Linked DNA regions of Homo sapiens: all the other regions are linked to region 1. Evidence: fine-mapped expression QTL. A gene starts in region 1. Each other region holds a variant in brackets. All regions are shown on one strand. Distances are between the middles of the regions. Region 1 holds the start of INIP (INTS3 and NABP interacting protein). Region 2 overlaps SNX30 (sorting nexin family member 30). Region 3 overlaps INIP (INTS3 and NABP interacting protein). Region 4 overlaps SNX30 (sorting nexin family member 30).

The links. PIP is the estimated chance that this variant, and not a neighbour inherited with it, causes the effect. A credible set is the group of variants that fine-mapping cannot tell apart.
Region 2: its variant is the best candidate, but not a certain one, in a credible set for the expression of INIP in nasal epithelium (TOPMed, PIP 0.54).
Region 3: its variant is the best candidate, but not a certain one, in a credible set for the expression of INIP in blood mononuclear cells (TOPMed, PIP 0.77).
Region 4: its variant is the best candidate, but not a certain one, in a credible set for the expression of INIP in whole blood (TOPMed, PIP 0.84).

Annotation. Positions count from the first base shown.
Region 1 is chr9:112,716,106-112,723,978 of GRCh38, reverse strand. It overlaps INIP (INTS3 and NABP interacting protein), which reads left to right and starts at 5,862. Exons shown (of 5, transcript NM_021218.3): 1 at 5,862-5,992; 2 at 7,438-7,518. The coding sequence starts at 7,494. RefSeq lists a silencer at 5,651-5,810 and an enhancer at 6,181-6,280.
Region 2 is chr9:112,753,970-112,762,061 of GRCh38, reverse strand. The region is part of intron 1 of SNX30 (sorting nexin family member 30); the gene reads right to left. Among named protein-coding and RNA genes, the nearest start is that of SNX30, 7.3 kb to the right of the region's middle. RefSeq lists enhancers at 5,540-6,219, 6,255-6,868, 7,321-7,410, 6,869-7,483. The variant A/G (reference allele first, on the strand shown) is at 4,438.
Region 3 is chr9:112,689,310-112,694,309 of GRCh38, reverse strand. INIP (INTS3 and NABP interacting protein) reads left to right here. Exons shown (of 5, transcript NM_021218.3): 3 at 77-179; 4 at 4,693-4,783. Among named protein-coding and RNA genes, the nearest start is that of INIP, 26 kb to the left of the region's middle. The variant G/A (reference allele first, on the strand shown) is at 2,129.
Region 4 is chr9:112,780,632-112,788,723 of GRCh38, reverse strand. All of the region lies in intron 1 of SNX30 (sorting nexin family member 30), which reads right to left. Among named protein-coding and RNA genes, the nearest start is that of SNX30, 34 kb to the right of the region's middle. The variant A/T (reference allele first, on the strand shown) is at 4,268.

The sequences.
Region 1 (7,873 bases):
TCCACCTGCCTCAGCCTCCCAAAGTGCTGGGATTACAGGTGTGAGCCACTGTGCCCGGCCTAGATCAGCTTTTAAAGCAGTGAAAAAGCAAAAGTGGGATTCTGGCCTGCACAATCCAAAGCATCCCCTAGACAAGGACAGATCATTTTGTTTGTATTTTCAGTGCCTGACATAGCATTGTTTATTGAATAAATGAATGAAAGGGCACATTTCAGCTTTAATTAGGTTTACATTAAAGACCAATCATCAGGTATACCTGCTTAGCACTCTTCTAGGTACTTTGAGGATACTAAAACATTATTGGCAACCTGGTCCCTTAGAAGTGACCAAATTAGAAGTAGATGACATAAAGGATTACACTTCACTCCTGCAGCCATTTTCCACAAGCAGCTTAGTGCAGTTTAGTGAGTCCTTTTCATAGTTCATTGAAAACACTAGGGTTTGATCTATTTACTTATTTATTTATTATTAATATTCATTTATTTATGAGTTGCGGTTTTGCTCTGTCACCTGGGCTGGAGTGCATTGGCACAAACATAGCTCATTGCAGCCTTGAATTCCTGGGCCCAAGCTATCCTCCCACCTCAGCCTCTCTAGCACAGATGGGATGACAGGCCCCCGCCACCATACCCAGCTATTTTTTTAGTTTTTGTAGAGACATGTTCTCGCTGTGTTGAGTAGGCTAAGTATTGAACTCCTGGTCTCAAGTGATCCTCCCACCTTGGTCTCCTAAAGCATTGGGATTATAGGCGTGAACCGCTGTGCCCAGTCCCAATCTATTTAATGAAAAAAAAAAACAGTGGCAAAATAAAATACTTTTCTTTTCTCTTTTTTTAATCTTTAAACATATTTTTAACATTTTGTAGAGACAGGATCTTGCCTTGTTGCCTAGGCTGGTCCTGAACTCCTGGCTTCAAGGGATCTTTTCATCTCAGCCTCCCAGGGATTACAGGTGTTAGCCACTGTACCCAGCGAAAACCCTTACTTTTTATTTAATTTAATTTAATTTAATTTATTTATTTATTTATTTATTTATTTATTTATTTATTTTGAGACAGAGTCTCACTCTGTTGCTCAGGCTGGAGTCCAGTGGTGCAATATCAGCTCACTGCAACCTTTGCCTCCTGAGTTCCATCAATTCTCGTGCCTCAGCCTCCCAAGTAGCTGGGACCACAGGCATACACCACCACACCCGGATAATTTTTGTATTTTTAGTAGAGATGGGGTTTCGCCATGTTATCCAGGCTGGTCTCGAACTCCTGGCCTCAAGTGATCCACCCCCCTCAGCCTCAAAACAACATTCCCCCAAAGTTGCTAGAAGTCTTCCTTCCATGATAAGTAAGTTCCTCTTCACTGTACCATTAGACCATCTGTCTACCTCCTGATTTAACTAAAACCCACTTCTCCTTCAAGGATAGCTTCCCTTGTGTTCATGTAAGGTGGAAAATCCTCTTGTGTCCAACCACATACATCATGGCATGGGGTTAGGGGAAGGGTGCTTCAGTATTTCCAGAATCCACACTCTCAATTCCAAACTATACATCTTCCTCCATCATGTAAAAACTCCAAATCTTTAGAAGCAGGTACATCTGGTTATACCATCTTTATCCTCTTCTCATTGCTGTCATCTACTGACATATTCATGGAGGACTTTGGCCCCTGGCTCAGTCTTTCTTCTTATCATTCTAGATAATATCATTGCCCATGTGGAGAATTCATTCTAAATGAATCCTACCATCTCCCTTAATTAGATAATCCTCCAAGGCTAATAATGGTCAGAAATCTTCTGCATAGAAGGTAGTGGTACAGAGAGGGGTAAAAGGCATTGTGGTGTTTTTTACATTTTATTTTAGAACTTTTTTTTTTTTTTGAGACAAGAGTTTCCCTCTTGTTGCCCAGGCTGGAGTACAATGGTGCAATCTTGGCTCACCGAAACCTCCGACTCCTGGGTTCAAGCAATTCTCCTGCCTCAGACTCCTGAGTAGCTGGGTTACGGGTATGTGTCACCACGCCTGGCTAATTTTGCATTTTTAGTAGAGATGGGGTTTCTCCATGTTGGTCAGGCTGGTCTCGAACTCCCGACCTCAGGTGATTTGCTTGCCTCAGCCTCCCAAAGTGCTGGGATTACAGGTGTGAGTCACCGTGCCCGGCCTATTTTAGAACATTCTTGAATGTTTATTTTTAAAAAGGCTAGTCTGGACGGGCGCGGTGCTTCACACCTGTAATCCCAGCACTTTGCCGGGCCAAGGTGGGCAGGTCACGAGGTCAGGAGTTCGAGATCAGCCTAGCCAACATAGTGAAACCCCGTTTCTACTAAAAATGCAAAAATTAGCTGGGTGTGGTGGCATGTGCCTGTAGTCGCAGCTACTTGGGAGGCTGAGGCGGGAGAATCGCTTGAACCCGGAGGCAGAGGTTGCAGTGAGCCAAGACCACACTACTGCACTCCAGCCTGGGTGACAGAGTGAGACTCTGTCTCAAAAACCAACAAAAACAACTACAAACAAGCCATATTTACTATCCTACATAGTTTCTGTGGATTAGAAATTTGTGAACAGCTTAGCTCGGTGGTTCTGGCTCAGGATTGCTTTCGAGGCTGCAATCAAGATGTCAGCCAGAGCTGCAGTCATCTGAAGGCCTGCCTGGGGCTGGAAGATCCACTTCCAAGGTGGAACACTACTTGACTGGCAACTTGGTGCTGGTTTGTTGGTGGAAGGCTTGCCTCAGTTCCTCTTTATTGGGCTCTCCAAATGGACTGCTTTAGTGACCTCATGACATATACATGGCTTCCTTAGAGCAAGTGACCCAAAAGAGGCCAAGGTAGCAACTGCAATCAGTGTCACATACTGACACTTCCACAATATCCCATTGGTTACTTGGGTCAAGTTTATTCAATGTGGGAAGGGATGACAACAGGAGGGCCATCTTGGAGGCCACCACATTTGGTTGTACAAAATCTTCATGATGTTTCATATTGTTTTAATACTCTAATGAGTTAATGTTTAATAGAAAATAATAGCTTATAGGTATGAGGCATCTGGTTTGATTTTATTTAATCTTTAAAACAATGGCATAAGGTAGGTGCTTTTAATACCCCTTTCCACAGATAAGGAGGTTGAGGAACAGACAAATAACTTGTCTAAGTGTTCACCCAGTAAGTGCAGGGCCAGGTTCTAAACCCAAGTTCTAAACTGCCAAGATTCAGGGTAATTTGTTACACAGCAATAGATAACTAATACAGTAATTGTCTCAAACTGCTACACACTTGATTTTAAAGGTTGTCTAGCCTCATGCAGATCCCCAAATACTTTATCACAAAATACCAGAAAAGGAGGTTAGAGTGGTTTCAGTTGGAAATTAGGAACTACTGTCAACTCTACCTTGATACTGAAGGTCTGTAACCACAGTGGTTTCAGGATAAAGTAATTCACAGACAGCTATCAGTTAATAGAGCCAAGGGGCTATAACATGCACTCCTTCTGTCTTGGACTTTCCCCTAGTATATTTCTCAGCTGACGTTTTTTTTCTTTTTTTTTTTTCTTTTTCTTTTTTTTTTTTTTTTTTTTGGAGACAGGGTCTATTGCTCTGTTGCCCTGGCTGGACTGCAGTGGCGCAATCATAGCTCACTGTAGCCTTGACCTCCCGGGCTCAAGCAATCCTCCTACCTCAGCCTCCTAAGTAGCTGGGACCACAGGCACCCACCACCGTACCTGGCAAATTTTTTAGATTTTTTTCTAGAGATGAGGTCTCACTATATTGCCCAGGCTGGTCTCAAGCAATCCTCCTGCCTTGGCCTCCCAAAGTGCTGTGATTACAGGCATGAGCCACCACACCCAGGCTCAGCTGATCTACTGACCACTTGCCAAGACACCCAGTAAAACAGATTGTTCATTGTTTATATTCTAATAGTCAACATTTATTGAGTTCTTATTATGTGCCAGGTGCTATTCTAAGTGATTTACGTATACCCAATCACTTATTTTTATTCCCATTTTATAGATGACAAAACAGAGGCACCAAAAGGTTAAACCAGGGCTCACCATCATTAAGTGGCAAAGCTCGAATTTGCATTCAAGTAAACTGACTCACTATTAACCACTGTGTTAGAGGTTAACACAATGAGGCAGAAGTTCCAAAAACTCTAGGAGAAGACAGAAGGGTTTCAAGGGCTATGACCTACCAAGTAAAAGGCAAAAGAATTGGCAGCAAGTTAAATTTATCTTTCTCCTGATAATGTTCTTTCAACTCTCAGAGGCTGAATTTGCTAAGAAATTATAAAATGTTGTTTAGGGTTAGAACTGTTTTTACTCCCACCTCCTTAAATAAGCTTTGTTCAGAATGTCCATTTGAAACTTAGACTGGAACTTTCTGTGCCCTAGTTTCTATATTAGCTAGGCCACAAAACAAAAAAAAATTCTAAGGTTCTATCAGCCATATAGATCTCAGTCATCTTTTTAGTCATACTAGAACTCACCAAGTCCTCTTAACTGAAAGGACTCCTGGCCTACCATCAAAATGCTCATGTGTTAGGCTTTATATCTGGATTAAAGTCAAGTCAGCAAGAACTGGTCTCAGAGGAATTCATTCCTCCAGAGCAGAGGCAATGTGTGAGATTTAAGAACTCAGGCCTTAGCATCTGGCAGATCTTTAAATTTGAATCTTAGCTCGCTACTTGACATAGAGCAAGAAACATGAGTCTCAAATATAAATCAGGGAACAGCAGGACCAGAGCTGATGCACAGGAAGCACCTCGCATTGTAGAAGGCACTCAATAGCTGCTTGGTATAGAGTAAATACATGCTTGGTTTTCAGTAAATAAATACTTGATATTGAAACGATTATTTCAGTCATTGATCCATGCACAAGAAAATTGTGCATCATAAACATTTTACTCTTGAGCAAACATCAATTATTAAAAACATATGTTCAAATTCATTATCCATTCTATTTAATTAAATGCTTGAGGCGCTTGGGGAGCTTACATTTGTGATTTAAGTCTGTGCGTTTTTCAAATGTATCTTTCGGAAGAGATTAAGACACTGCAATTTTAAGCAGGGCAGGTGGCTCACGCCTGTAATCCCAGCACTTTGGGAGGCTGAGGTGGGCAGATCCCTTGAGGCCAGGAGTTCAAGACCAGCCTGGGCAACAAAGCGAGACACTGTCACCATAAAAAATATTTTTTTAAATTAAAAAGAGTGCAATTTGAACACATGTCAATATACGATTACCTTTTAATTCAAATGTGTAGCTATCTACTGTGCTGGAATCAGGTGGGCAGCAGGTGATCCCACTAGTGGCAACTTGGTGTTCTGCGATGTGGCACATCCACTTCTTAAATGCAGATTATTGCACTGTAATAAAAATCCTCCATATTCAGTGCTTTCATTGTGTATAATTATGTAAACTGTAGACAAAAAATATTCCTGAATTTGTGTGTGTGTGTGTGTGTGTGTGTGTGTGTGTGCGGATGCGCAATCCGAGATGGTTGTTAAAGCTCGAAAGCGAGTTTAGCTTCTAGAGTCGCCCCTCCTCCGAGGCCCAGCCGAGGTGGACTCGCACCGTCGCAAGACCGGCCAGGCGGTGGCAATGAATAAAAAGCCAGTCTTGGTGCTAGGGACCCAGGTGTTCTCCGTCCCGCCCCTGCCTGGCAGCCCCGCCCCTCCCCCGCCCCGGGCCACGCCCCACCCTGGCCCAGCCCCCAAAAGTACCGTTTGCATCTCCCGTGAGCCTCTTCGACTGTCACTCTTTGGAAAAAAAAGTGACGTCTGCACTGAGGTGGCCGCTAAAGTGCGAATCACGACGGGCGGTGGCCGTTGGGTCCCGGCGGGAGGCGGGGTTTCCGCTCCCTGGGGCGCACGTCAGTCAGGAGGCGGAAGCGCAGCGGGGGCGGGAAGGTTGTAGTGCCGCGAGTTGAGCTCCTCTTGCCTAAGTGGTCGCGCCCCCTTTAAGAGCAGCGATTGTAAGGAGAGGCGGTCCCGGTGTCCTCGGGTCCCAGGTAAGTACGACAGTCTGGAGGCACCGGGCAATAGAAAAGTGTGGCTCCGGTGCTAACCTGTCGCCGCCGTCTTTGTTGCTACAGGCAGCGACCTCCCTTCCGACCTTGCCACCTAACATTTCTGGCTCCTACTTGCTTCCTTCGTCTCGTTCACAGCCCGGGCCCAGCCGGCTCTGCACATCCGTAGGCAGGGACCTTTCTGGCACGCCAGTCTACCCTGTCACAAGATGGCCCTGTTGTCCTCCAGTCCTAACCCCGCATTGCTCGCTCTGTGTTTCAGCCGCTGGAGACACCTAACGATTCATTTACTAAAAACCGGTGTCTGTTTTCTATCCCTTGTGTCTTTCCCGGGCTCCCTAGACTAAGGCATCACTCTTTGCTGCCAATGAAATCAATTCTTTGCCTCCGGCACTGTGCCCACCTTTTAAAGAGCGGGTTTGTTAAGCTTTTTTTTTTTTTAATTAATAGTATGGTTGCTTGAATAAGACTTTATTTTCCCTTCTGAAAGCAGGATTAGGGTCTTGCTCATCTTGGATCTCCCCAGGATTTAGTACGAAAGCACGAAGTTTGGAAACCAGCAGCCCAAATAATTCCTACTAGCTCTATGACCCTGGGTACGGTTTCCTCATCTATAAAATGGTGATAAATAAATAAAGGAACTAATTTCGAGCATGTTACACAGTGTATGGTGCAGAGCAGATACAGTACTCCTTTACCTTTTTTAGCTTTCAGTGTACACAGTAGTTTTTGGGTATGTGTTTTAGACGAATGCAGAGACACCATAGATGAATGATTTTTCTTCCTAGCACCATGATTATATTGACTCTATCAATTGGTTGATATATTTGGTAAATACAACCTAATGACGTTTATTAAAGACAGTAATGCTAAATGGTATGAACATCTGCAAGAATAAACAATGCCGTATTTAATTAAATGCTTGAGGCACTAGCAGAGTTTACATTTGTTTCAGTCTGTGTACATTTCAAATGTATCTTTCTTTCTTTTCTTTTTTTTTTTTTTTGAGACCGAGTCTCGCTGTCTCGCTCTGTGGCCCAAACTGGAGTGCAGTGGCGCGATCTCGGCTCACTGCAACCTCCGCCACCCGGGTTCAAGTGATTCTCCCGTCTCGCCCTCCCGAGTAGCTGGGACTGCAGGCGCTTGCCACCACACCCGGCTGATTTTTTTTTTTAATTTTATTTTTAGTAGAGACTGGGTTTCACCATGTTAGCCAGGATGGTCTCGATCTGCTGACCTCGTGATCCGCCCGCCTCGGCCTCCCAAAGTGCTGGGATTACAGGCGTGAGCCACCGCGCCCGGCACAAATGTATCTTTCTGAAGAGATTAAGAAACAGCAAACATTTCATTGTAAGGAGGCTAGCTGTTCCTTTTAGTTTGTGATTAAAATATGGTGCATTGTATATGTGTGTACACATATTTTATAGGTGATTGTGAAGTGCTGACCAATTGCCACTGGACATACTTGAAACAAAATAGGAAAATGGCAGCAAACTCTTCAGGACAAGGTAATGACAGCAGGAATTTCTTTACTATGAACATTTCCCCAATATAGTAAATGTATTTGAATAAGAGAAAATTTAGCATAGGGCAGTTACTGTAGCCAGAATTTAAAAAATGAATAGCAGGCCGGGAGCGGTGGCTCACGCCTGTAATCCCAGTACTTTGGGAGGCCAAGTCGGGTGGACTGCTTGAGGTCAGGAACCCCGTCTCTACTAAAATACAAAAATTAGCTGGGCATGGTGGCGGGCACCTGTAATCCCAGCTACTAGGGAGGCTGAGGCAGGAGAATTTCTTGAACCCAGGAGGCGGAGGTTGCAGTGAGCCGAGATTGCACCACTGCACTGCAGCCTGGGCGACAGA
Region 2 (8,092 bases), 38 kb before region 1:
ATGTACTTATTTTACTTTGAGAGGCTCTCATTTATCGTGGAACACCGGCCTTCCTCCCAGTGGCCTTCACTAACACCTGATTTTCAAACTGCGATGACATCCTACCCCCTACTTTATTGTCAATATGCACTTTGTCTAAATTCTGACCTCAAACCTCTCCATCTTCTATTCCAGTCTCTATTTGGATCTACTGGGATTATACATCTATTTAATAAAAAAGAGCTTCCTGGAGGCAGCATTTGTTTGAGCCTTGAAGTTTGAGTAGGCTTGCAACAGTGGCCTTCAGGCATCCTCTGTCCTGAATGCCTGACTTGAAACCGTGTCCACGTCATCTTTACACTTCACTCGCACATGTGCTTCCCGGTCTGCGCCCCCCTCTCAAAGACGGCACCACTGTTCAGCATCAATCTCCTGGACTTTCTAGTCAGTCACCCCCACTACACCAAAATCTGTCATCTTTATATTTTCTAATCTTTCTCTTGTCAGGCAACAAGTCCAACCAAAACCAGGTTAATTCTTCCTATCTTACCTCTTTCACGGCTGGTCTTTCCCCATCCCAAGCCCTGATCACACATCCCCCTGCTCAAAAACCCTCTTGGGGCCGGGAGCAGTGGCTCACACCTGTAATCCTAGCACTCTGGGAGGCCAAGGAGGGTGGATCACCTGAAGTCAGGAGTTTGAGACCAGCCTAGCCAACATGGTGAAACCCCATCTCTACTAAAAATACTAAAATTAGCCTGGCGTGGTGGCATGCACCTGTAATCCCAGCTACTCGGGAGGCTGAGGCAGGAGAATCGCTTGAACACAGGAGACGGAGGTTGCAGTGAGTCAAGGTAACACCACTGCACTCCAGCCTGGATGACAGAGCGAGACTCCGTCTCAAAAACAAACAAACAAACAAACAAAACCACGCCCTCTAGGACTAGCTACTGCTGAAAGAATAAAAGCTAACCTCCACATCACAGCACTCAAAACAGTCTCATTAACCTCCTGACCTGTCTACCCACCTCGTCTCTCACTAATCTCCACCTCTAGACTCTCAAAACCCACTCCCAACGCATGACCCAATTCAGTCCTCCTCCAGCGGCCACAGGTCTTTCCTGTCTCTGCCCTTCACCTTGGGGCTTTTCCCACCCCACATCTGAAAGCCCCCTCCAACTTCACGGACCTGGTGAAAACACAACCTCTGCGACCTCAGCTGATCTGCAGACATACCCCCAGCTAGTGGGGCTGCCAATAGGAATAAACACCCCATTCTCCCTACTCCTCAGGTAAAACCCAATTTTCAAGTCATATTTTAAGGTCACGGTATTGGTAATTTAAGTTTCAAGTGGCAAACCAAATTGAAAACAGTATTAACAAAAGGGAATTTATGACCCCCTATAACCAGGAACCCGTTCTAACTTCAGGCACAGCTGGCACAGTCGGATCCTGAACTCAAATGATCTTGCCCCTCTTCCTCTCCTAGCTCTACTTCCCTCTGGCTTCATTCTTAAGCCAAGCACTCTCTGCATTGAAGGACACGACCATTCACAATCTAGTAGAAAGGCAAGACATTCTTTCCCCCATCATCCATCTCATAAATCTCAGGAAAGACTGCCTGGCTCTGTTAGGGTCACACATCCACCAGGGATGCTATTTTGGCTAATAAAAGATATTGATGTTAGACCAGAATGGGAAGGATGAGGAGACAAGCCAGGGTATTTCTGTCCCAACCTGCTCTCTGCCTCAGATCGTGCCACTGGCAGCGGCTGCCTCCCCTCCAGGGCCCCCTTCCTCTAAGGTCCCAGCTCCTGCTCAATGACCCTGCCACAGGTCTAGTTCTCACAGAAGCTCCTGGGTTCTACTTAACTTCGCCTCTTCCCCTAACCCTCCAGTCCTGAGGGTAACAGCAACTTCCTGCTACTGCTACTCTCTGGGTCAATTTACCACCCATCACCTATGCAACTAACTCCTTGTATTATAGTCTCTCTGTTTGAAATAACTTCACTGGCTTTTATTCCCTGATCAGACCTCAACTAATATAGAAATCGACAAAGCATAGGCCAAAATGTAGAAAGAAATGTGGAGAGTACAATATCAAGGAATAACAACCACCAACACCTCCCATTTCTTAAAGGTTCGCTATATACATCACCCACTACTCTACGAACTCGCTGGGTCTTCCTATCAACCCAGTGACATGGGCACATCTGTTATCCCCTTTTCACAGATGAGAAAACTGAGGCTCAGAGACGTTAAACAACTTGCTGTTACCAAGACTCTAAGTGGTGGGGCTGAGATTCAAATCCAGACAACATGATTCCAGCATGAACAACTTTTTTTTTTTTTTTTGAGATGGAGTCTTGCTCTGTCGCCAGGCTAGAGTGCAGTGGCGCAATCTCAGCTCACTGCAACCTCCACCTCCCCGGTTCAAGCGATTCTCCTGCCTCAGCCTCCCAAGTAGCTGGGACTACAGGTGTGCGCCACCATGCCCAGCTAACTTTTTGTATTTTTAGTAGAGACAGGGTTTCGCCATGTTGGCCAGGATGGTCTTGATCTCTTGACCTTGTGATCTGCCTGCCTCGGCCTCCCAAAGTGCTAGGATTACAAGCGTGAGCCACCATGCCTGGCCCGTGTGCACACCTTAAAACAGGAAGTGGAGGGGAAGCATTTCAAGCAGGAGGTTAACAACAGGATCAAGTGTTACCTACCAAGGGGTCAGGCAAAATAAGGACTATAAAGCATCTACTGGATTTAGCAATAATGAGATCACTGAGGACCCTGAAGAACAGAGTCAGAAACTAGGCAGCAGGAGGCTGAGGAGTATGTCAGAGGTCAGGAAGTGGAAGCAAGGGCCGCAAACCTTCTCTTCAGAAAAGTGTATTGTAAAGAGGAGTCACAAAATAGGGCACAAGACCAGGCACAGTGACTCAGGCCTATAATCCAAGCATTTTGGGAAGTTGAGGCAGGAAGATCACTTGAGGCCAGGAGTTCGAGACCAGCCTGGGCAACAAAGCAAGACCTTATCTCCACCCCCACAAAAAAAAGGCACCAGATGGAGGAGAAAAGAACATCATAGCAGAGCTTCCTTTACTCTTTCTCTCTGTGTGTGCACGTGCGCGCGTGTGTGTGTGTTTAATAGAGACAAGTTCTCACTATATTGCCCGGGCTGGTCTTAAACTCCTGGGCTCAAGCGATTGTGTGTGTATGTGTGTGTGTGTGTGTGTGTTTAACAGAGACAAGGTCTCACTATATTGCCCAGGCTGGTCTCAAACTCCTGGCCTCCAGCAATGTTCCTGCCTTGGCCTCCCAAAGTGCTGAGATTACAGGCAAGAGCCACCACGCCCAGCCACTCTTTCTGTGTTTTAAAAATCAGAGCAACTTGGCCAGGCATGGTGGCTCACAACTGTAACCTCAGCATTTTGAAAGGCTGATGCGGGCAGATCGCTTGAGCTCAGGAGTTCGAGACCAACCTGGCCAACATGGCGAAACCCCGTCTCTACCAAAAACACAAAAATTAGCCAGGCGTCAAGACCAGCCTGGCCAACATGGCGAAACCCCATCTCTACCAAAAACACAAAAATTAGCCAGGCATGGTGATGCGCGTCTGTGGTCCCAGCTACTCAGGAGGCTGAGGCAGGAGAATCTCTTGAGCCCAGGAGGCAGAGGTTGCAGCGAGCCAAGATCGTGCCACTGCACTCCAGTCTGGGTGACAAAGCCAGATACTGTCTCAAAAAAAAAAAGAGAGAGCGCAACTTGAGCATGTTTAAATATTGATGGGAGTGAGCTGGTTGAGAGGGAGTCCAAAGATACAGGGGTAAGTCAGGAGGCCAAACAGAGCAGGGTCTCCAAGAGGATGGGGGGTGGCAGGTGGGTCTACACCCTCAGTCAGCCTTAGACTCTCTCCTTGGAACAAGGGCCAGAAAGAAAACATGGCTATGGAGTCAGATCATTCTGAAATTTGAAGAAGGGAAGTTCCTTTCTGGTGGCTTCCATCTTCTCTAAGGTGGAAGGTGAGGCAATCAGCAGAAGGAAGGGTGGAGTAGAAGGGTAGAGGGTATGAGGAGCAGAGAAAAGTTTCAGATAAGCCACTGTGCAGACGGAGGGTCTGTGGAAAAGAAGGAGTGTCCAGGACCACTGAAGCCCCAGCTGTGGCTGAAACCTGTGAACTTACATTGGCAGCAACCCTTGAGCTTCCTGAGAACCCTGGTTGTAGATGAAAGACATGAACAAATGGAATGATCCAAGCTGGGTATAAAAAGAAGAGAGCAAGGGAACTGAATATAGAGGCAGGAGCAACCACGGAGATGGGCCACAGAATCTAAAGGAGGTAGGGGAATCCAAGAGGTCACAGAACAGAACAGGTATAGTCAGTTGTTAATGACTCAGAGACCTGGAAAGCCAGGACGGGAAAGCAAGACAAAATGATATACGCGGGGAAAAGGGAACTTTTGT[A/G]CAACGCTGTTAGGAATGTAGATTGGTACAGCCATTATGGAAAACAGTATGGAGGTTTCTAAAGACATTAAAAATAGAACCACCATATGACCCAGCAATCCCTCTTCTGGGCACATACCCAAAGGAACTGAAATCAACACCTCATAAAGATATCTGCACTCCCACATTCACTGCAGCATTATTCACAATAGCCAAGATATAGAAACAACCTAAGCAGGCCTCAATGGACGAACAGATAGAGAAACTGTACTGTGTGTGTACACACAAAACTGAATATTATTCAGCCCCAGAAAAGAATGACATCTTGTCATTTGCCATAACGTGAATGAGCCTGAAGGAAATTATGCTAAGTGCAACAAGCCGGACACAGAAAGAAAAACACTGAGTGATCTCACTTACATATGGAATCTTTAAAAAAATTCAAATATATAGAGAAAGAACACAAAATAGTGGCTACCAAGGGCAGGTGGGAGAGGAAATGGGAAGATGTAGGTAAACGGATACAAAATAGCAGATATGGAGGAGTGTACAAGTCTGGAGATCTAATGTAGAACATGAGGACTAGAGTTATTAATAATAAAATTGTACTGTACTTGACAATCATGCTAAATGAGTCAATTTAGATGCTCTTGCCACAAAAACAAAATGAGTTAACTATGAGATGATGACTGTGTTCATTTGCTCCACTATAGTAAACTTTTACTATCTATGTGTATCCCATAACATCAAGTTGTATACCTTAAATAAACACAATAAAATGTGATAATATCCAGTGGCACTATTTCAGAGCTGGAATGCTTCTAGGTATTACAACGCAGGGTGCGGCCGTGGGAGAGAGCAGATGAACTGTTAAAAAGGTGAAGGAGCCGAGCGCAGTGGCTCACGCCTGTGATCCCAGCACTTTCAGAGGCCGAGGCAGGCGGATCACCTGAGGTCAGGAGTTCGAGACCAGCCTGGCCAATATGGTGAAACCCCGTCTCTACTAAAAATACAAAAATTAGCTGGGCGTGGTGGTGGGCACCTGTAGTCCCAGCTACTCAGGAGGCTGAGGCAGGAAAATCGCTTGAACCCTGGAGGCAGAGGTTACAGTGAGCTGAGATCGCAGTGAGCTGAGATCGTGCCATTGCACCACAGCCTGGGCAACAGGGCAAGACTCCATCCCAAAAAAAAAAAAAAAAAAAAAAAAAAAGGATGATTACAGATAAGGAGGTCAAGAAACTGGTAATTTTGGAGAGTTGGACAGATCAGCCATGTGAATGATTAAAGCCCCGTGGTGAGGACATGATTTCAGAAGACAGTAAGTTGGGGTCTAAAGATTTAATGAATGAGAGTGAGAAGGTGTGAAGTTGGAAAATGACAAAGAAAACAGTATTGGAAGGTCTGTAGTGGATATTTGTTTCCTGCTTGTCTAACATTTCTTGATTTTGCTCTGGCAACCACCTCCTCCCTTCCCAGGCACAGAGGGGGCTTCCAAAATATTTGTAATATTCTGTATCTTAATCTGGGGGTAGGAACATTTTATTAGTCTTTAAACTGTACAGATAACTTTTACTCTTTATATACACACATTGTTATAAACTTCATGTATATATTCCCCAATTTTAAAAAAATTCCTTTCCTCATTCCAAAGATAAGTACCTGATTCAAGTCTGCGCAATCAGAATCAGAGACTGGTTTAGGCGCCTGACCCAATTTAGACCAATGAGACACCAGCCCAGAGCTTTGGCCAGAACTATCAGGAAAGGAGTGCTCTCCTTCTGCTGGAGCTGGGAAGCTTGTTTATAGAACATATCCCTTCACTGGCATGAGAACAAGGCTGACACAGAAGAAAGCAGAGCCAAGAGATGGAAAGTGACAGATCCCCGACATCACTGGAATACCTTGCTCCAGCCATCCCTGAAGCCAAAATACCTGGGCCTTTTCAGCAACGTGAGCCAGTAGATTTTTATTTTCCTCTATCTAGTTTGCATTCAGCTCATGTCTTTTTAACTAATAAAGAATCCTAACTAATTCAGGGGAATGCTCAAGGTAGTCTCAATTGAACAGCCTATGTGATCCTTTTCAATATATAATCAAACTATGCCCCCCTCCTGCTCAAGACCCTGAAATGTCCCCTGCCCATGTTAACTTCCCACCCCATGGCCCTAGCAATAAAGGCCAAAGTCCTCAGGGTGACCGGCCACATTCAATATAATCTGACCCCTCCCTTCTCTGCCCCCAGCCTTTAACTCTCCAATGCTCACTCTACCTGGCCACACTGGCCTCTAGGCTGCTCCCCGACACACCAGCCCTGTGCCTTCCGGCCTCTGCTTCAGGCAGTCCCTCCCCGGACAGTCTTCTTCAGATACTCACCCACTAACTCCCTCACCTCCTTCCAGTCTGCTCAAATATCAAGTACTCAACAAGGCCTGCCAAATCCTCTTCCTCGCGGCCAGTTCTCCTTTTTCCTCCTTCCATGGCATTTATGGTGTAATACAGTACAAACTTGCTGAAATGTATCCAGTGAGGGCAGGGTTTTCAGCTAATTTATTCAAGTTCCTAGAACAGTGCCTGGCTCATAGTAGGCCCTCAAATATGTATCAAATGAACAAAAAGAATGACAGGAGCCTCAAAGGAGCAGAGCCTGGTTTGTAAAAGGTGATGGAGGAAAAGCCTTCTCTATTTTGAAGACTTCAGAGGACGTCTAAGTGACCTAAGGAGGCAGGAAGTAGATGAAGAGTTCAGAGAAGAGATTGAGGATGTGGGAGGAGGTGTTAGCCACACAATGGGGCTTAAGAATCCAGTATTAAGTTTTGGGAGGGGTACAGAAGTTAGAGGCTGAGTCAGAGGAGAAGCAGCCTGGAGCAATTTACAGATGAAAGTTAAAAAAGGAGAGTAAGGCTAAGTGATGTATTTACATTTTAGATGGAGATAGCCATATAAGGTCCAGTGAGGCTCACGCCTGTAATCCCAGAACTTTGGGAGGCAGAGGTGGGCAGATCATCTGAGGTCAGAAGTTCGAGACCAGCCAGGCTAACATGGTAAAACCCCATCACTACTAAAAATAAAAAAATTAGCCAGGTGTGGTGGCAGTCACCTGTAATCTCAGCTACTCAGGAGGCTGAGGCAGGAGAATCACATGAACCCAGGAGGGAAAGGTTGCAGTGAGACTGCACCACTGCACTCTAGCCTAGGCAACAGAGTGAGACTCCATCTCAAAAAAAAAAAAAAAAAAAAAAGGCCCAGTGAGTTTAGCAGGCATCAAAAGAATTAGTCCTGGCAACCTCTGGTAGATAGAAAGGATTCCTCCTTTGGGAGCCTATGAAGGGAGGCATCACACCATGATTTGAACAATTTGAGAAATTGGTGGAGAGTCCATCATATTCAGTCTTTCTCTTCTACCCAAGCACTACAGAGTTCATTCACAAGCGTCAGCTGGACCAAGACACCAGGCTACCCTGTTCATCGCACCATCTTGGGCCCTCAGAAAGCAATTCCCCTTTGCATAATAACCCTGTACTATGACCAGCCTGTCAAACCTTCATTCCCCTGGCCCAGAACTGACGCAGAATCCCTGTCATCCAGGATCACAACCCCAGTATCTAACAAGACAAAACTGGCTTCTTTTCAAAGACAGACCATAGCACTGAACTGTCCTAACACCCCTCTGATGACC
Region 3 (5,000 bases), 28 kb after region 1:
GTTATAAAAATAGGTCTAAAATGTTTCTGATTACTCTCTCTTTCTCCCTTTTCTCCTATTCCCCTCTTTTTTTTAGGTTTTCAAAACAAAAATAGAGTTGCAATCTTGGCAGAACTGGACAAAGAGAAAAGAAAACTACTTATGCAGAACCAGTCTTCAACAAATCATCCTGGAGCTAGGTATTGACACTATAATGTGGGTTTTTTGTTTGTTTTGTTTTGTTTTGTTTTGTTTTGAGACGGAGTCTCGCCCTGTCCCCCAGGCTGGAGTGCAATGGTGCAATCTCGGCTCACTGCAGCCTCCGCCTCCCGGGTTCTAGCGATTCTCCTGCCTCAGCCTCCCGAGTAGCTGGGATTACAGGCACCTGCCACGACACCCAGCAAATTTTTGTATTTTTAGTAGAGATGGGGTTTCACCATGTTGGTTAGGCTGGTCTTGAACTCCTGACCTCAGGTGATCCACCCGCCTTGGTCTCCCAAAGTGCTGGGATTACAGGCGTGACCCACCGTGCCTGGCCTGTAATGTGGTTTTTATATTCAGTGATATAAAAATTTCTTGGACCAAATAATTCAAGTTGGCTGGCAATGATTTTTTTCTTTAACACTGCAATCTATTCATTGTGTTTTCTTTGTATAGGGGAGGCTAAACTTTACCTGTGCCCAACTTAGTTCTTATTGGGAGGGACCTCTGTAACAAAAGACAGATTAACAAGAGAAAAACAAATTTATGAGTGCATGCAGCACACATCACAAGGGAGAAACCTTATAACTCAAAATCATGGCTTAGAACTCTACTTATATAGCATCTTCAACAAAGAACAATAAATGTGGAACAAACAAAAGGGATTTTAGGCTTCTTGGGGTGGGAAACTGAGAAGGTAAATATATGGAGAAAACGAATGGAGTAAGGCTTGTTGGCAGAGTCCTCTGCTGCTGTCCCTAGGCTAAGAGTCTAGAGTTGTCTCCAGTAGAGGAGAAGTTCTATCCTATCTTTAGGCAGAAAGTGGGGAGGGGAGAGAGAGAGCTTTTCCTCAGTTTGCTGCTGCCTTTTATTTTTATTTTTAAGCAACCCTATTAACTGAGCTGCTTCTTAATTGCTTTCAGCTCAAAAATAATTTTTATATCAAAGAAGCATATTTTAGGTGACATATTCTAGTTCCCTTCATTTCCTAGTCAGACTTTTAACAAACTGTTTAGTTGATTAAATTGTAAACATTCTAACTAGAATATTTAATTTTCCCTATAGACTTCATAGCCTTCAGACTTTTTTTTTTTTTTTTTTGAGACAGGGTCTAACTCTGTCACCTAGAGTGGAGTGGAGTGGCACAATCATAACTCACTACATCCTGAGTCTCCTGGGCTCAGGTGATCGCCCCTGAGTATCTCACACTACAGGTGCACCCTACCATACCTGGCTAATTTTTTTGTTTTTTAGTAGAAACAAGTGAGGTCTTGTGTTGCCCAGGCTGGTCTCAAACTCCTGGCCTCAAGTGATCCTCCTGCCTCAGCCTCCCAAAGTGCTGGGATTACAAGCGTTAGCCACTGCACCTAGCCCTTATAGCCTTTTTTTTTTTTTGAGTTTTGTATGGTTTTTTATTACTGCAATTGCTGCTAGTGCCCCACTTTTTAATCATTCTGCAAAGTAGGCCAAATTTAGGTAGCTTGATGATCTTTATTATAGGTATTCAGTCTCTGCCATATTTAGTATCTTCCCTCAGATCCATTATTGCCGGGCATGGTGGCTCACGCCTGTAATCCCAGCATTTTGGGAGGCTAAGGTGGGTGGATCACTTGAGCCCAGTAGCTCGAGAGCAGCCTGGGCAACGTGGCAAGACCCATCTCTACAAAAAATACAAAAAATTAGCTAGCCATGGTGGTGCATGCCTGTAGTGCCAGCTACCTGGGAGGCTGGGTGGGAGGTTCACCTGAGCCTGGGAGGTTGGGGCTGCAATGAGCTGATTGCACCACTGCAATCCAGCCTGGATGATATAGTAAGACTGTCTAAAACAAACAAACAAAAAAGATCCATTATCCCCTTCAGCCACCACCACCCTAACTCTCTTCTGTCTTTCTCTTAAAGCAATTGGCTGTACTCATCTTTACTTTCTCACTTATTGATGCCTCAACCC[G/A]CTGCAGTCTGACTTCCAGGCCCTCCATCAAAGAAAATGTTCTTGCCTAGGTCTCTTGTAACCTTCCCGGGTTAAATCTGGCAGACCAGAGTCCTTTTCTTATCAGACATCTTAGTGTTATTTGACACCACTGATCACTTTCTTTCTTTTCTTTTTTTTCTTTTTTCTTTTTTTTTGAGACAGGGTCTCTGCTGTGCAGGCTGGAATGCAGTGGCACGATCTTGGCTCACTGCAACCTCTGCCTCCCATGTTCAAGTGATTCTCGTGCCTCAGCCTCCCAAGTAGCTGGGATTACAGGCGTACCCCACCACACCCAGCAAACTTTTGTAATTTTAGTAGAGATGGGGTTTTGCCATGTTGGCCAGGCTGGTCTCAAACTCCTGGCCTCAAGTGATCCACCCACCTTGGCCTCCCAAAGTGCTGGGATTACAGGCGTGAGCCGCTGCACCCGGCCCACTCTCTTAAAGTACTCTCTTGGCTTCCATTTGCTCACTCGGAGAATGTAAAACACAGTAGGAGGAGACTATCTTGATTTCTTTTGTGGACATTTCTCTATTTGTCCCTTGAATGCTGACAGCCCTTCGAATTCTGTTCTAGACCAGGCTTCCTAGCCTGCCTGTTTTCACTGGACAGTTGCATCTTTTCCCACATGCTGTTATTTACGTGCTAATCACTTACGCATTTGCAGCTCTAGTCTGTCCTTTCTTCTAAGCACCACCTCTGCCTCCTGGATGTCTCTACTTTGATGTCCACAGGCATTTCAAATGTAGTATGTCCCAACCTGAACTCATTCTCCCCGCTCTCCAATCAGCTACTGAATATTCTTGTGTATCCTGTCTCAGTAAATGGTTCAGGCTGCCATCTACTAGTTACAAAGTCAGAAATGTGAACTTCAGTTGTTTACCATTCCTTTCACTTTCATCTCCAAGCATTCACCATTCTCTTGTGATTATACTTTGAAAGGTGTCTCACATCTGACCATTTCCTTCATTGCTACTGATGCTATCCTGATTCCTGGCCACTCTCATTTCTTGCCTCAATTATTATAACTGCTTCAGAGTTCCTGTGGTCTTACGCTTCTTGAATACATTCATCAGTTGTGTCATTTAGCAAGCTTTAATCGGGAAGTAACAGAAATATAACAAAATTGGCATAAACATTTGGGTATCTGTTAACCAAGAGTGTGAAGATAAGGTAGTTCCAGAGTAGCTTAATTCAGTGGCCACAATATCATTAGTGATGCAGCTTCATTCATCTTTCCTTTCTGCTTTACCCCATGGGTCAGTGGCTCCCTCAGGCCAGAATATGACTGCAGTGGCTTAGGCATCACCCCGCACTGAGCCACCTGTAGAGGAAAAAGCCTGAAAGGTTCCTATGGTGTGTCCCATTTGTAAGAGTGAGGAGAACACTCTCAGAAGCCTTCCTGTAGACACCCATCAAGTCTGGTTGCCCAGATTATGTACCTTTCTCTTGCCTAAACCAGAAACCAGCTAGGGGAATGACATTGTCTTACATCAATCAAGGTCTACCCCCTGGGGCATGAGCCTGGCCTGCCTTGAAGCATGTGACTACTGATAATTGAACCAAGTTTGGGTTCCATCAGCAAGGAGGAAAGGAGACAAACAACTGTTGAGGAGGTGACCAACACTGTCTGCCACAGTAGTGCAATAGTGGTCTTTCTGAACTACAGGATGATAGTTCTTTTTTTTGAGACAGGGTCTCACTCTGTCACCCAGGCTGGAGTGCAGTGGCACCTTCTCCAGACCTCCCAAGCTTAAGCGATCCTCCCATCTCAGCCTCCCACGTAGCTGGAATCGCAGGCACATGCCACCATACCTGGTTAATCTTGTTTTTGTAGAGATGGGGTCTCACTGTATTGCCCAGGCTGGTCTTGAACTCCTGGGCTCAAATGATCCTCCTGCCTCGGACTCCCAAAGTCCTGGGATTACAGGCATGAGCCACCACGCCTGGCCAAGAGGGTTATACTTCTGATCATGTCACTCCCCTGCTGCCTAACACTCTTTGGAGGTCTCCTATTACTGTTAGGATAAGGTCTACATTTTATAACATTTTCCAGACCATTTAAAATCTCAGTAAATAACATAGACTTTCTTATATAAATTCATGAAGATAGTGAGAGAAGGAAAAAAGACTTATTCTTGGAGGTTTTTTTTTACCCCTATAAAGAATATATAATGAAAAGTTGTGATTCAGAAGTAAGGACATCTCTTTAAGAGATTTACTATATAGCATAGTGACTATAGTTAATGATACATACTTGAAAATTGCTAAGAGAATTTTTTGCTAAGAAAATTGCTAAGAGATCTTAAATGTTCCACAACCAAAAATGGTAAGTATGCGAGGTGATGGATATGTTAATTAGCTTGATTTAACCATTTCACAACAAATACAAATACTAAAACATCATATTGTACACTGGAAGTATATGCAGTTTTTGTCAAGGATACCTCAATTTAAAAAAAAGAAGATAATTTACTACCATCCAAAAAAAAGTAAGGATGTTTCTGCCTTAAGCAGCTGAGTAACCAAGATTCCCATTTTAGCATTGCACTCTCGAGACCCTCTCTTAATAAGGACTTCCGGGATCACGCTGAGCAGCAGCATATTGCAGCCCAACAGAAGGCAGCTTTGCAGGTGAGCAGTGTAACTGACATTCTTGCCTCGGTGGAGGTTTCCTGGATCTCAGAAGCCGGCACATAGTTATTTTATATTTCAGTGGAGCAATATCAATAAAAATGTTCCACACATAATTGCAATGGTTTGCTGATGTTCAGTCAAGCCCAGAGGATTTGAAGGACCAGTGCAGCAGTAATGAAAGTATCTTTTATGGTGTTGACTCGGTCATGATTGA
Region 4 (8,092 bases), 65 kb before region 1:
ACCTAAGGAAGGCATTCCTCCACTGAAACTTCTGCACCAAAATCACACAAGGGTCTAGGGTGTAGAAGCCCCCAGAGATCATCCAAGTTGTCTCTATTACACATATGGAAAAGTCTTATACGTAACAAGCATGAGGTCCCTCGAGTGGTGTGTGAGGAGCCCAGGTAGGGCTGTGCTACACCACAATCCAGGCGTTCCTTAGGTAGGAAGAAGGTGCCTAGAACGACCCCTTCATAAACAATAGTTCTTTTCCTACCCTTCGCCCAATTCCTCTTAACTGTACCATCTGTTCATCTTACAAAGCCTGGTTCTCATTGACATGTTTCTGTGCTACCATCTGACATGGTACTACACACGCGGAGTGCACTCTGCATGTGACCTAAGAAGTCAGGTGCCTAAGGAAAGTCCAAGAAAACGGCATTTTGAGTTTTCAGAACAAAGGCCTAGAGGAAACAAAATATCATACAGAGCTGAGTATGTGCTTGTTGATTAATCATCACCCCAGCCCAAACCTTCTCAAGGACAAAAAAAAACACTCAAGTGAGGAACAGGGCAGGACTCAACTTCCAATAGCAGGTGCCAAGTGGTTACTGTTAATCCACTCTTACAGCCCACACTTCTCAGATGTGCTGCAAAAGCCTTGCACTTTTAGCAAGACTAAAAGTGTCCTTGCCTTGGGTGGATCCCCTGAGGTCAGGAGTTCAAGACCAGCCTGATCAATATGGTAGAACCCTGTTTCTAGTAAACATACAAAAAAAAATTAGCCAGGTGTGGTGGCATGCGTCTGTAGTCCCAGCTACTCGGGAGGCTGAGACAGAAGAACTGCTTGAACCCGGGAGGCAGAGGTTGCAGTGAGCCAAGATCGCGCCACTGTACTCTACCCTGGGCGACAGAGCGAGACTCCATCTTTAAAAAAAAAAAAAGCGTCCTTGCCTCAAAAATTACCGAAAACTCACCATTCCTCTACAATAGGGACTGTCTCTCTGAAACCCATAGGCACCTTGGGGGCCAAAAATTATGCACCAACATTTGCATGTGCACATGCAAATGCCAATCTTCTTTGGGAGCTTAGATGTTACATCTAAGCTTCTTAGGAGAGAACCTATAATTATTAGAGCCTCAAAAATACCTAGGGAGGGAAAAAAATCACGACAGATTCTAAACTGTCTCTCTAAACTAAAAATAGGAAACAGAAATACATTTCGACCTACCTGAGCTACCCAAATTCAAACTGCCCTCTAGTATAGTACTTCCACATTTAATGATTTGTGACACCCATACCCTACCTATGGGGCTGGGGGCTGTCCTTAAATCCTCAATCCAAACCTAAAATGAACACAAGAGGATGTGCTAAATGAGAAGGAAACGTGTGACTACATTCAAATAGGTCATACTTCCTTCCACAGTGTCTTCACTTCATTTTTTTCTCCCCGTACAGAACAGGTTCTCCCTGTACAGTACTAGTTTTGTGGCACTCAATAATGTTGTATTGATTTAGATCTGCATCTCACCACAAAGCAGCTAGAAGAGATGTTTTTCCGTGGAACTTTTCGAGGCCTGAGACACAGTTTCCACACAGCATCTTTTTAGAATCCTGAAGTGTGCTAGCCTACAACCCAAAAGTACAGATGGCCTTCCAGGCTGGAGCGCCACCTGACTGGCTACCTGGCTGCCCCAGATCGAATTCCCACATTCCCACTGACATGACTCAGACCGAATGTGGGTGATTTCTATTCCCATGGTTAGCGTGTTCACTGGAAAAGAAAAAGGCCCTGAACCAAGAGTCTGATCATAGTTAAAACATTAAAGAATAAGAGAAAAAACAGGAAGAGGGTATTCTAAACCAAAATGGCTCAAAGGAGTTTCACACCTAAGTAACCAGACAAGGAGAGGTAAAGAAAATTTTAAAAAGGCAAGAAGGGGCCAGGCGTGGTGGCTCACACCTGTAATCCTAGCACTTGGGAGGCCAAGGTGGGCAGATTGCTTGAGCCCACAAGTTCGAGATGAGCCTGGGCAACATGGTGGAACCCCATCTCAAAAGTTTAAAAAAAAAAAGTCAAGGACAGACGTAAAAGAAAAGGGCCTTAAATTTAATACTGGTCACACAGTCTTGCCCTCTCACATGGGCATTCTGAGTCCAGAGACAGAAATGAGCTCTGTAAACAAGGGCCATGCACTACTAGGAGAGGGACAGACACAGAAGAAGGAAGAAAGTGAAGGAATGAATGAGGAAAAAAAAACTCTTACAGCCTTACTTAGCTATAAACTATGAGGTGTAAAATGAAGTCAGAAAAGAGACAAGAGGCCAGGCAGGGTGGCTCAGGCCCATAATCCCAGCACTTTGGGAGGCTACAGCAGGCAGATCACTTGAGTCCAGGAGTTCGAGACCAGCCTGGGCAACACAACAAAACCCTGTCTCTACAAAAAAAATACAAAAGATTAGCAGAGCGTGATGGTGCACGGCTATAGTCCCAGCTACTCAGGAGGCTGAGGTGGTAGGATCACCTAAGCCCAGGAGGTCAAGGCTGTGGTGAGCCAAGATGGTGCCACTGCATTCCAGCCTGGGTGACAGGGTGAGATCTTGTCTCCAAAAAAAAAAAAAAAAAGGACAGCTCCTACATGTTAGTACAGCAGCAACTACAGGGTATCCATCTGTATGGAGAGGCTTGGGGGCTTATCTTGAAGCCAATATGCAAGAGATCAATAAGCTGTAAGGATTTCTAAAGATGCTTTTATTTCCACTTCACATATGATACAGAAAACCATCAGCTGAAGAATATTATTATTATTTAGTTAAGGTTATTGTTGAAAAGGGTGCTGATAGATTAAGGGAGAGGTGGCTTTCCTCAAAGCTTCTCCTAGGTATAGTGTTGTTAGACAAAATTTAGCTAAAAATTACATTCCTAGGCTGGCAAGTAATCCTAGCACTTTGGGAGGCCAAGGTGGGAGGATTGCTTGAGCCCAGGAGTTCAAGACCAACAACCTAGGCAACCTAGTGAAATCCTATCTCTACAAAAAAATTTAAAACTTAGCCAGGCACGGCCAGGCGTGGTGGCACATGCCTGTAATCCCAGCACTTTGGAAAGCCAAGGCAGGCAGATCACTTGAGGCCAGGAGTTTGAGACCAGCCAGGTCAAGATGGCAAAACCCCATCTCTACAAAAAATACAAAAATTAGCCGGGCATGGTGGCAAATGCCTGTAATCCCAGCTACTCAGGAGGCTAAGGCATGAGAATCGCTTGAACCAGGGAGGCAGAGGTTGCAGTGAGCCGAGATTGTGCCACTGCACTCCAGCCTGGGTGACAGAGTGAGATTCTATCTCCAAAAAAAAAAAAAAAAACTTAGCCAGGCATGGTAGTACACACCTGTAGTCCCAGCTACTCGGGAGGATGAGGTGGGAGGATCGCTTAAGCCCAGGAGGTCGAGGCTGCAGGGAGCTGTGATCACACTACCATACTCCACCCTGGGTGACAGAGTGAGGTCATGTCTCAAAAAAAAAAATTACATTCCCAAAATATAGATACAGTTAAATGTGTTGTAAGCAACCTTCTTCAAGTAATGAAATACTTGATTATGTTTCTATGAGATGGCAGAAAGAGTGGGACAAAATAATCACTCCCTATTTATTCTATAGACCAAAACATAGGTGTTTTCCAACACACAGGAGTTTTAAGCAGCCTAATTAACATGGTGCTATACTCCCCCAAACCACGTATTAGAAGATATGGAAAGCAAAATCTGTTCGCTTATGTATTCATCCAAACACTTATCAAGTTCCCATGGACTGCTAGGTGCTATTCTAGATGTGGAGGAAAGGGAGCCAATAAGGAATTTACTTGAGGAATCTAGTTTAGGTGACCTGTGTACTAGAGCCCAGAAGAAAGCCAGAATAATTCTGTTCTCCGAGGAAGGCTTCAGAGAGGGAGGTTTGACCTGGGCTTGGCAGGATGGCAAGAGACCCGGGTTTAGATTCTAGTTCTCCTACCAGCTATGAGGTCATAAGAAAACCACTTAAACCTACTGACGTTCACTGGAAAACAGCAAAACCTGGTCCAGGCTAGGCTGCATGGAGATTACTGGGGATGTGTGAGAAAGTCCTCTATAAACTCTGCAGAGCTGTTCAATGGAAGAGAAAGGTGTTCCTGGCACGGAACACCACATCAGCAAAATCGCCAAGGGGTGAAGTGCAGAAGGCAAAAAAGAAGGCACGGGCAGGGGACCAGTCATCCTGAATGGACATGAGCTGCTCTAGGGGAAGCAGCAGGAA[A/T]TAAGGCCTGGAAAGTGGATTAGCTCCAGAATCCTAGGGAATCTTAAATAACAGGCTTAACAATCTGAGGTGCACCCCACAGGTAACGGCTGTTAAGCAGCAAGCTGCAATCATGGACACATTTTACAAAAAGACTTCAGAAAAAAGCATGCAGAAAAAATAAAGAGGGAAATACAGGAGACGTGAGAGGGAGCAGTTGGGGAGCTGCCAACTGTCCAGGTACCCCTCTCCCAGTAGTACCTGACCTAGGGGGTAGGTGCCAGGAGAGGCAAGGGCAGATGAGAGGTGTTGTCAATGCTAAGATCATATGGCCTGGGATACCCTGATGAATGTTTCCTAGGTGGAAAAAAACAGTCTGGCCACACCAGGAGGAATCATGTTTCAATTCAGGTAAATTACAGAGGATTAGAAACTGCTATTATTCTAGCAAAATTGAATAAACCCAAGTTCAACAGCCCTGTGTGCCATCTACAGAGCCCATCCTTAGGATATGAGGGCAAGTCCTACTGAAATGACTGTGTTCAGCAAAGGCTCAAGCCAAGGTCACTGGGTACACCTTAACATATTCTTACCCACGTGACAGCTGCCTCTCACAGGTCACTCACCTTCAGTAATTTGCTTCAGTGATACCTGATTCAAACCGTTTTTTCCACTCTCACAAACCAGCAGCCCTCAGCACAGAAACTGACATGGGGAATCTTGACCATAGTCCATTTAAGGAGGCCAGCTGCACAAACAGCCCACAGACTGTCATCGCAACCTGGCTCTGACACCTGGCCTGAGTGTTCTCCTTAGGACATATGGACCCACCCTTGGCAGACAGCAAAAGGTGGACAGCTGATTGCCCGGGAACCTGGACTATGAGTTGACTCAAAACCACAACAAAACCCCAAAATAGAAAGCAAAGTCTTGGGGCTAAGATGGACTTAGGGACAAAATCCATCCTTTCACAGCAGTCTATACATATAGCTCTAAATCAAGGGAAGGGAAGATAAAGAAATTAAATGTTTAAGTTCACACTCTCTGCCAGGCACTGTGTAAGTCACTTTACATATTAAATGTCTCACTTAACCCTTAAAATAACTTGGTGGCAGAGGGGAGGAATTTTATTATCCCTGTTTTATTAAGAGAACAGGTTACAGACCAGGAAAGTTAAAAGACAAGAAGTCACTCAGCTAATAAGAAGCAGAGGCACAACCCAGCCTGGAGACTCCAGAGCAGAGGCTAGTAGCCCTTCACCGTCTGCCTCCATGGCGCCAGAGATTTCATTAAACAGTTACCTACCGGACAAGAAACCCCCAACTACCACCACATTCACCTTTGCATCTGTGGCATCTGGAGAAGTGCCTGGTGGTAAGCAATTCTTCATTAGTGTTTCTTAAAACAATGAAACTCCTGAACCACCAGTGGCAGAAAAATAAATCAAGCCACTTCTCTTCTCAAGGGAGCTGAAGAGTCAGCCAGCTCCAGAGAAGATCCAACCCAAAGTACCAGAAACCATTAACACACAGCTCCACTTAGCCATCAGCAATCCCCAACAGAATCCGGAAAAATAAAACGAGGCCCCACCAGTGTCTGCTCTTACAATAGAAATAAATGTGAGTGGTCAGACAGCATTGTGCAGGGGCACATCTGACTTGAACATTCAGTGTTAATGCAGGAGGTTAAGGGGAATCTCATCTCCAGGGAACTCTTGAGTAACATCTCTCTTATCCAAATAGCTTGATAACTCACCATGTCAATCCCTAAACTGATGGAACAGATCTGAGTTTTAATAATGATAACTATGGAACTTCAAAGAGTGAAGACAGAATAGATTATTCAATAAATGCTGATGGATTTTTTGGTTAACTATTTAGAAAATAGTTTCTCTAATGCTAAATGCAAAAATAAATGTCAGGCCATTTAAAGGTTAAAAAAATGAGTACTACATGATGATTTATACCAGGGGTCAGCAAACTTTTTTGTTAAGGAACAGTCTGTGGCCACAGTATCTCTCCTGCAACAACTCAAGTCAGCTGTTGTAGTGCAAAGGCAGCTATAGACAGTAGGTAAACAAATGAGGATGGTTATGTTCTAATAAAACTTTATGGCAGGGCATGGTGGCTCACACCTATAATCCCAGCACTTTAGGAAGCTGAGGCAGGCGGACCACCTGAGGTCAGGAGTTAGAGACCAGCCTGACCAACATGGTGAAACCCCATCTCTAATAAAAATACAAAATTAAACAGGCATGGTGGCACATGCCTGTAACTCCAGCTACTCGGGAGGCTGAGGCAGGAGAATCTCTTGAACCCGGAAGGTAGAGGGTGCAGTGAGCCGAGGTTGCACCATTGCACTCCAGCCTGGACAATAAGAGCAAAACTCCGTCTCAAAAAAACAATAAAAAATAAAAAACCTTTACTAACAAAGACTGAAATTTTAATTTCACTAATTTTCACATGGCACAGAATATAATTCTTTTTATTTCATCAGCCACTTAGAAATGTAAAAATCACTTTTAAAACTAATGGTGGGCGGGGCGCAGTGGCTCATGCCTGTAATCCCAGCACTTTGGGAGGATAAGGCGGGTGGATCACCTGATTTCAGGAGTTTAAGACCAGCCTGACCAACATGGCAAAACCCCGTCTCTACTAAATATACAAAAAAAAAAAAAAATTAGCCAAGCGTGGTGGTGGGCACCTGTAATCCCAGCTACTCAGGAGGCTGAGGCATGGGAATCCCCTGAACCTGAGAGGTGGACATTACAGTGAGCCCAGATCACGCCACTGCACTCCAGCCTGGGCAACAGAGCAAGAATCTGTCTTAAAAAAAAAAAGTTTTAATAAAATTAAACAAGACAATAAAAAAGCATTCTTAACCCATGGGTTATACTAAAACAGGCAGCTGGACAGATACACCCTTTTGGCCTTAGTCTGCCAATTTCTGATTTCGATGAATAGTATATAAAATCCTGTGGTTGGAAAGGCTTTCTAAACCCCAACAAAAAGCAGAATCCATAAAGGAAAAGCATAATAGACAGCAATTTTTTTTCTATGTCAAGAAGACATAACAAAGATTAAAATATAAATAACAAACTGGGGAAAGGATTTGAACATACATGAAAATAGGTTGTTTGCTTTAACATATTAAGGGTTTTGAAAAATCAGTATTTAAAAGGCAGATTCCACTACAAAAATGAACAAATTATGTAAATATAGCCAATAAACAATAATCATTCATCATCAATAGCATACAAAATGAAAATGAAAACAAGATATTGTTTCTCCCACCAAAGTGACAAAGATTAAAAAGATTACCTCTGATTGCAAAGCCACATTGTTTCTACTACAACACACTAAAAATATATTCAGGACACCACCACCAAAATAAAATGGCTTTTTCAAAGCTCCATTCAGTGCCAAAAGAGCAAGGGAAGGACTTTGCAAACAAGAGAGAATGTAGGCTGGATGACAATACTATGGTTAGGGGACTCTGTGACGGGCTGAATCATCTTGGCTAAAGAGAAAATGTTGATAACAGAACTGGCATCCCCACCTTCAATTTTCAGCCATGGCTAAGCGTCATCAATGTCTAAGCCGGGGACAAAGATTCAGAGCACATTACCGTATCCATTTGTTTTCAATGACCCAAGTGCTTTTCCTCTGTCAGTGGTGACTAATGACAGATGGTAATATTTATACCTAGTGAATTTCATCTTACTATGAAATTCAAGCCCCGGGAAAGCAGACAGTCCTCAAAATCACCCAAGGTAGCAGAAGACACAAGTGGCAGTCAGACAAATGCTGTGCAGATGGTAGATGTAAGGAACATTTTAAATTCTAT